Homo sapiens: one gene and its partner. The protein of the gene in region 1 interacts with the protein of each later gene in a pairwise test. Each region holds a gene or a part of one and is shown on either strand. Other genes may lie near its edges. The genes, in order: FXN and RASSF1.

Evidence for each region.
Region 2: the proteins of FXN (region 1) and RASSF1 interact in binary tests that used the Homo sapiens proteins (3 or more experiments, as listed by UniProt).

The regions. Positions count from the first base shown.
Region 1 is NC_000009.12:69,070,115-69,073,928, forward strand, and holds part of FXN (frataxin, mitochondrial isoform 1 preproprotein), read left to right. Parts: intron 1-2,497; coding exon 2,498-2,648; 3' UTR 2,649-3,814.
Region 2 is NC_000003.12:50,334,201-50,338,014, reverse strand, and holds part of RASSF1 (ras association domain-containing protein 1), read left to right. Parts: coding exon of another isoform or gene 1-3; coding exon 4-110; exon of another isoform or gene 111-504; intron 505-564; exon of another isoform or gene 565-695; coding exon of another isoform or gene 696-842; intron 843-883; exon of another isoform or gene 884-1,255; intron 1,256-3,814. UniProt on the Homo sapiens protein: Potential tumor suppressor. Required for death receptor-dependent apoptosis. Mediates activation of STK3/MST2 and STK4/MST1 during Fas-induced apoptosis by preventing their dephosphorylation.

The DNA of each region.
Region 1 (3,814 bases):
GCTACTCAGGAGGCTGAGGTGGAAGGATTGCCTGAGTCTGTGGGGCAGAGGTTGCAGTGAGCTGAGATCACACCACTGCACTCCAGCCTGGGTGACACAGTGAGACCCCATCTCAAAAAAAAAAAAAAGAAAGAAAACGGCCCAGGAAGGCTGGAGGGCCGCCGTGTCCATTGAGAGAGTGCTCCAGGCACTCCAAAAAGAAAATGACCACAATGGGAAGAAACCAGCTGACCATGAGACCAAGTTCCAACCTTTTACAAGTGGCCTGTGGCTCCTGGCGCCCCGCCCACAGCTGACAGGGGCTCAGAAGTGCTAGGGGGACCATGGGCCACCAGGGCCACCAGGAGGGAGGCAGGTAACGATGCGAGGGCTTGGATGCAGAACACCAGCTGGTTTGATTCTGTTTTCCCTGTACCTGGGTCCTGAATGCCCAGAGGCTCAGGGAAACACCAGCCAGTGCTGCTGCCTTTAAAGCACTTTTGACTGATCTCTTGTTAATTTAGCAACTGTTATTGGTTGATGCTGCAGTTGCTCTTATTGAAGTTTGATTGATAGCATTAGGATGGTAAGGCACTATTTTTCAAATAAAGGTTGTTTAATATAAAAAAAATTTTGTTTTTTTTTCTCTCAGCCTTTCACATTGGTTCAAAATATCTTTCATCTGGCTGCATTTCTGATTTTTGTTTTGTTTTTTTTTTCTTAATTTTATTTATTTTTAATTAAAAATAATTTTTTTTGTCAACATGGGGTCTCACTTTGTTGCCTAGGTTGGTCTGAAACTCGTGGCTTCAAGCAATCCTCCCACATCAGCCTCCCAAAGTGCTGGGGTTATGGGTGTGAGCCACTGCAGCAGCCTGTTTTTTTTGTTTGTTTGTTTTTTTTAATTTGACAAGTTTTCAGGTCCTGTGAAATCAGCAGTCTTACCTCCCACCTTGCGCACCCTGAGGAGGTTGCAGAATAAAGGAGAATTCTAGGGACACGTGGGCATCAGTGCCTGTGCTCAGAGCACCTCAGGCAGTGTGGAGGGGTCTAGAGGTTACTCAGGCTCTGCCTGGCAACCCGATAGCAGTATCAGAGTATAGGGCCAAGGGGACGGTCCTTGGGCTTGGTGTGGTTTATTAGTCCTTTTCCTGTGACCCTGATGGTTTGGTTCACTCATTTTTATCTCCATACTGGGAACAGGTTCAAGCCCCAGCATTTGGTTGATAATGCAGGAATCCTTGATACTTTTATTGCCCAAGCTTCCCTTCCTGGTGACCTCATCCTAGCCTCAGTCTTTGGAAAAGCCCTCCTTGAGTGCTCAGGCAGACTCAGGTGCCCTTTCTTCTGGGCTCCCATGCACTCTGTTCTTACCTCCATCAGGGTGCCACATGCACTAGTGTTATCTGCTGCCGTGGCCAATCATCCATGAGGCCATGAGGAAGTGGAATGTACATCTGGTATAAGAAGACATGGCAGAAGCCAGCCTCCGATCTGTCCACACGAATACAGCATTCCCAAAGCAACGTGCATGTGCCATTATTCACTGGATGAGCTTGAGGTGGATGAACTAGCCCACCAGGCTCTCAATGTCATGAATTTAACACTGAATTAAGAAAAATATGTTTTAAAAATAATAGTTTAGGTGATTGCTGGGGTGCTAGGAGAGGAAGGAATGGGGAATAACTGTTTAATGGGTATAGTTGGCCTTGTGTATCTGTGGGTTCCACATCTGATTCAACCAACCGTGGATCAAAATATTTGAAAATAAAAAACAAAACAAAAATGATACAAATAAAAACCAATATAACAACTATTAACAGCATTTACATTGTACTAGGCATTATAAGTAATCTGGAGATGACTTAAAGCATACAGAAGGATGTGCCTAGGTTAGATGCATGTATCGTACCATTTCATATCAGGGACTTGAGTACCCACGGATTTTGGTATCTGCAGATCCTGGAACCCCTTCCCTATGGATACCAAGGAACAACAGCACTGGGTCTCCTTTTGGGGTGATGCAGATGTTTTGAAGCTAGGCAGAGGTAGTGGTTGCACAACATTGTAAATGTACTAAATGCCACCAAATTATTCATTTTTAAATGGTTAATGTGTTATGTGAATTTCACCTTAACAACTAATAATATTATAGGTAAGGCACAAGTTACATCTGTAGCACAAAAATGGCCCTAATTTTTAAAACACTGCTCCAGCATAGCAGGTATCACATGTGAGGTAGCAAAAGCTGGAGATCAAAGTGTGATACCTGGAGACTTATCAGTAAGGGTCAAATGTTTTTTCAGGTTTTGAGAATCATTCTTGGAATTGTTCCAGAAGATATATCGTATAACTCTTCTTAGATGCTAAGATAAGAAGGCAGATATACACTAGCTCATTTTGTGTTATTTTCTAGAGCTTTACTCCAGTCAATTTCTTGGGGGCAGCATTTGTGGAATCAGTGGTTCATCTGAAGGGCTGTGCTGTGGAATTACTATGCATTTGTTTTGTCTTCCAGTGGACCTAAGCGTTATGACTGGACTGGGAAAAACTGGGTGTACTCCCACGACGGCGTGTCCCTCCATGAGCTGCTGGCCGCAGAGCTCACTAAAGCCTTAAAAACCAAACTGGACTTGTCTTCCTTGGCCTATTCCGGAAAAGATGCTTGATGCCCAGCCCCGTTTTAAGGACATTAAAAGCTATCAGGCCAAGACCCCAGCTTCATTATGCAGCTGAGGTCTGTTTTTTGTTGTTGTTGTTGTTTATTTTTTTTATTCCTGCTTTTGAGGACAGTTGGGCTATGTGTCACAGCTCTGTAGAAAGAATGTGTTGCCTCCTACCTTGCCCCCAAGTTCTGATTTTTAATTTCTATGGAAGATTTTTTGGATTGTCGGATTTCCTCCCTCACATGATACCCCTTATCTTTTATAATGTCTTATGCCTATACCTGAATATAACAACCTTTAAAAAAGCAAAATAATAAGAAGGAAAAATTCCAGGAGGGAAAATGAATTGTCTTCACTCTTCATTCTTTGAAGGATTTACTGCAAGAAGTACATGAAGAGCAGCTGGTCAACCTGCTCACTGTTCTATCTCCAAATGAGACACATTAAAGGGTAGCCTACAAATGTTTTCAGGCTTCTTTCAAAGTGTAAGCACTTCTGAGCTCTTTAGCATTGAAGTGTCGAAAGCAACTCACACGGGAAGATCATTTCTTATTTGTGCTCTGTGACTGCCAAGGTGTGGCCTGCACTGGGTTGTCCAGGGAGACCTAGTGCTGTTTCTCCCACATATTCACATACGTGTCTGTGTGTATATATATTTTTTCAATTTAAAGGTTAGTATGGAATCAGCTGCTACAAGAATGCAAAAAATCTTCCAAAGACAAGAAAAGAGGAAAAAAAGCCGTTTTCATGAGCTGAGTGATGTAGCGTAACAAACAAAATCATGGAGCTGAGGAGGTGCCTTGTAAACATGAAGGGGCAGATAAAGGAAGGAGATACTCATGTTGATAAAGAGAGCCCTGGTCCTAGACATAGTTCAGCCACAAAGTAGTTGTCCCTTTGTGGACAAGTTTCCCAAATTCCCTGGACCTCTGCTTCCCCATCTGTTAAATGAGAGAATAGAGTATGGTTGATTCCCAGCATTCAGTGGTCCTGTCAAGCAACCTAACAGGCTAGTTCTAATTCCCTATTGGGTAGATGAGGGGATGACAAAGAACAGTTTTTAAGCTATATAGGAAACATTGTTATTGGTGTTGCCCTATCGTGATTTCAGTTGAATTCATGTGAAAATAATAGCCATCCTTGGCCTGGCGCGGTGGCTCACACCTGTA
Region 2 (3,814 bases), on another chromosome or scaffold:
CAGATTGCAAGTTCACCTGCCACTACCGCTGCCGCGCGCTCGTCTGCCTGGACTGTTGCGGGCCCCGGGACCTGGGCTGGGAACCCGCGGTGGAGCGGGACACGAACGTGGTGAGCGCGGGGCCGAGGGCGTATGGGAAGGGCGAGGATGGGCAGGCCACAGTGCAGGCATTCTCGAGGGCTGCCTGGGTGCCGCGCGCAAGGAGCGTTCTAATTGCCGATTTCCCGGCGGCACAGAGAGGCTAATTCTGCGCGGGGGCTGGGAGGGGAGCCTGGATTGCCGGCTCCGCAAGTACTCCACCCGCTGCAAGCGGACCCGGGCCCAGGCTGACCCAGGCTCCGCGCACGCGCACTTCCCGCACCTTCCCGCCCTCGCCTCCGGCCAGAGGCCACTCTTGTGCGCTTGCCCGGACGCTGGCACCCGCCCCCGTTCCCTGTGGTAGGTGGGGTCTGTGAGTGGAGCTCCGGAGCGATGAGGTCATTCCTGGGGGCGAAGCGTGCGTGTCCCCGCCCCGGCGTTCCTGCCCCAATGAGACAAGAGCTAGATCCCGGCGATCTACGTTTCAGTCTTAACGGTTGCGGCGCGGCTCTGGCCCGGGCGCACGCGCACACTGACACGCGTACACGCACGCACGCGACCGGGGCGGTGGTTGGCGGCTACGGACGCGCAGGACTGGGGGACGGGCGGGTACGGCTATGGGCGAGGCGGAGGCGCCTTCTTTCGAAATGACCTGGAGCAGCACGACGAGCAGTGGCTACTGCAGCCAAGAGGACTCGGACTCGGAGCTCGAGCAGTACTTCACCGCGCGAACCTCGCTAGCTCGCAGGCCGCGCCGGGACCAGGTGGGAGCCAGGGGGTGCCGGCGGGCGGGAGGGGAAGCGGTCGCTGGAGCTCCGCCCTCCCCGGTCCGTTGCCGCGTCCTGGGTCGGTGGGCAGCCCCACCCTCCTGGCTACGTGGCTCCCCGCGGGTCCTGGCCGGGGACCTGCCCGCGGAACCGTGCGTAAGACCCCGATTCCACCGCCTAGATGCTGGGTGCCGGGGCCCCCTTGGTTTCTGTCACAGACAGGTTGAACACGGAAAAAGCAGCTGTATGGCTTGTGGTAGACCTGAGCCGGGCATTATCCAGCTATGACTAAAGCCGACCGAGCAGTTTGGACTAGCACCTCGATTTCCGCGTTCGAATGCTCCTGCTCCCTCCTTGGGGAGACTAGGGGAGGATGTGGAGAGGGAAGAGTCCTCGCCAGGAATTGAGAAGTATGTTTAGGAAAACTTGAGAGGCAGAGAGAGATCCTGCTCCTCCATCTGCACTCCTGTATGGAGCCAGCTGAGCCCTCACCTCTTCCCTGTTCTGGCCTGTCACCAGCTGCTGGAATGTGGAAGATTCTGTTCCCTTCCTCTAGGGTGGATCTGGAGAAAGATTTGGGAATAGATAGGAAAGAAGTCTTGTTTTGGACCATAAGCATTCAGGAGCACTTTACCCACAGGAAGGGGGAAAGCTAGATTATAAAATGCCTAAAGAGGTGGAAAAAGAGATCCAGGTTACTAACCCAGGACTGTAAGGTGTCTCGGAACCTCCTAGGTATCCCCATTATCGGAGAACTGTGTGCCAGATGCCATTGGTGTGACCACCAGGCTCAGAGAACCAGGCCTAGGCACCAGGAAAAAGAAACAGGGACTGTGAAGCTCAGTATGCCTGGCAGAAATGGGGCGGAAATCCTTATTTAAGTAAAGAAAGTGGAGTTGTGAGTGATGCTTCAGATAAAATTTTACAAAATTCCTTACAAAATGGGTGGTGCTCAGCACGCCAAAATCTTAGCCCAGAGCTTGGGTGCAAGGGTTGAGTTGAGTGTAGACCCCTGGGCTTGTCTTCATGTCAGTCAGTCCTGAGCCATTTTCCACTGTGGAAAGGTGGGAAAACCACAAGACACTAACCAATTGAAAAGGAGGGCTAGCCACGGAGGTGCACACCTGTAATCCCAGCTACTTGGGAGGGTGAGGCAGAAGGATCACTTGAACCTGGGAGGCAGAGGTTGCAGTGAGCCAAGATCGTGCCACTGCACTCCAGCCTGAGTGACAGAGTGAGACTCTGTCTCAAAAATAGAAAAGGAAGCCAAGTACGGTGGCTCACACCTCTAATGCCAATGCTTTGGGAGGCCAAGGCAGGTGGATCATTTGCAATCAGGAATTCGAGGTCAGCCTGGCCAACATGGTGAAACCCTATCTCTACTAAACATACAAAAATTAGCCGGGCATGGTGGTGTGTGACTGTAGTCCCAGCTACTTGGGAGACTGAATCACTTCAACCGGGAGGCAAAGGTTGCAGTGAGCCAAGATCGTGCCACTGCACTCCAACCTGGGTGACAGGGTGAGGCTCTGTCTCAAAAAAAAGAAAGAAGGCTGGGCTTGGTGACTCATGCCTGTAATCTCAGCATTTTGGGAGGCCAAGGCAGGCAGATCACTTGAGGCCAAGAGTTCGAGACCTGCCAGGCCAACATAGCAAAACCCCGTCTGTACTGAAAATACAAAAAAATTATCTGGCCATGGTGGTGTGTGCCTGTAATCCCAGCTACTGGGGAGGCTGAGGCAGGAGTATCACTTGAACCCAGAAGACAGAGGTTGCAGTGAGTCGAGACTGGGCCACTGCATTCCAGCCTGGATGAGAGAGCAAGACTCTGTCTCAAAAAAAAAAAAAAAAAAAAAGAAAGAATAGGAGGCTGAGAAGTCCCAAGTTATATGTTAAAAAAAAAGAAAAAAACATCAGTTTTAGGCCAGGTGCAGTGGCTCACACCTTTAATCCCAGCACTTTGGAAAGCCGAGGTGGGTGGATCATGAGGTCAGGAGTTCAAGACCAGCCTGGCCAAAATGGTGAAACCCCGTCTCGACTAAAAATACAAAAAATTAGCCAGTTGTGGTGGCAGGCACCTGTAATCCCAGCTACTTGGGAGGCTGAAGCAGAGAATTGCTTGAACCCAGGAGGCAGAGATTGCAATGAGCCAAGATCGCACCACTGCACTCCAGCCTGGAAAACAGAGCGAGACTCTGTCTCAAAAAAAAAACCATCAGTTTTTATGGACAGTGGTAGAGTGGAGGGTGGGTCCCTATGGTGCAGAAGGGAAATTCCATGGTCCTGCTGTGCATCCGACTGGGATGGCTGTTGAAATCCTCTTCCAGCAGGCAGCTTTGGAAACAGAAAAAGAAACTCTTCCTCCTTTAGAATCCTGGAAGGGCTGTGCAGTGCCTCTAATCCAAGTCTGTTTTCTGAGTGAAGATAGGGAGGTTCATCACCAGAAGGGAAGGGGCTGGAAATGAGGTCACTGCATCCCAGCCCAGGGCTCCTGGGTCATCCAGGAAGGGAAGAAGGAGCAAGCTTTCTCATTGTTAGGTAGGAGCTCAGAGCCATCACAAGAACAAGTTAGCACCATCCCTGTGCCCTCCCTGTTCTGCAAACAAAATGATCTTCCTTCTTGCCCTGGCACTAGAGTCTGTCTGGCATTTCTCCTGCCCCTAGTACTCCTCCCATCTGGGTACTTCTTCCCGTTGGTGTACTGAACAAACACATCCACTGCTTTATTCACAGCCTCCAGCCCTCATTTTCCAGGGCCCACACCATTTGTTTTTACTAACCCGACAAGGTTGCCCACTGTCCCCAGTAAGGTTTGTACTGGGGTTTTTACTCCAGTGCTCTTCTCCATCCAGGAGACCTTTGGATACTTGGGGAAGAAAATGAGCTTAAATTCCCACCCCTCCCCCTTTACCTTTTTCCTGTAAGGCCCTGGCCTTAGTTCTTAGCCCCACATCCTTGCTGGCTGCAGA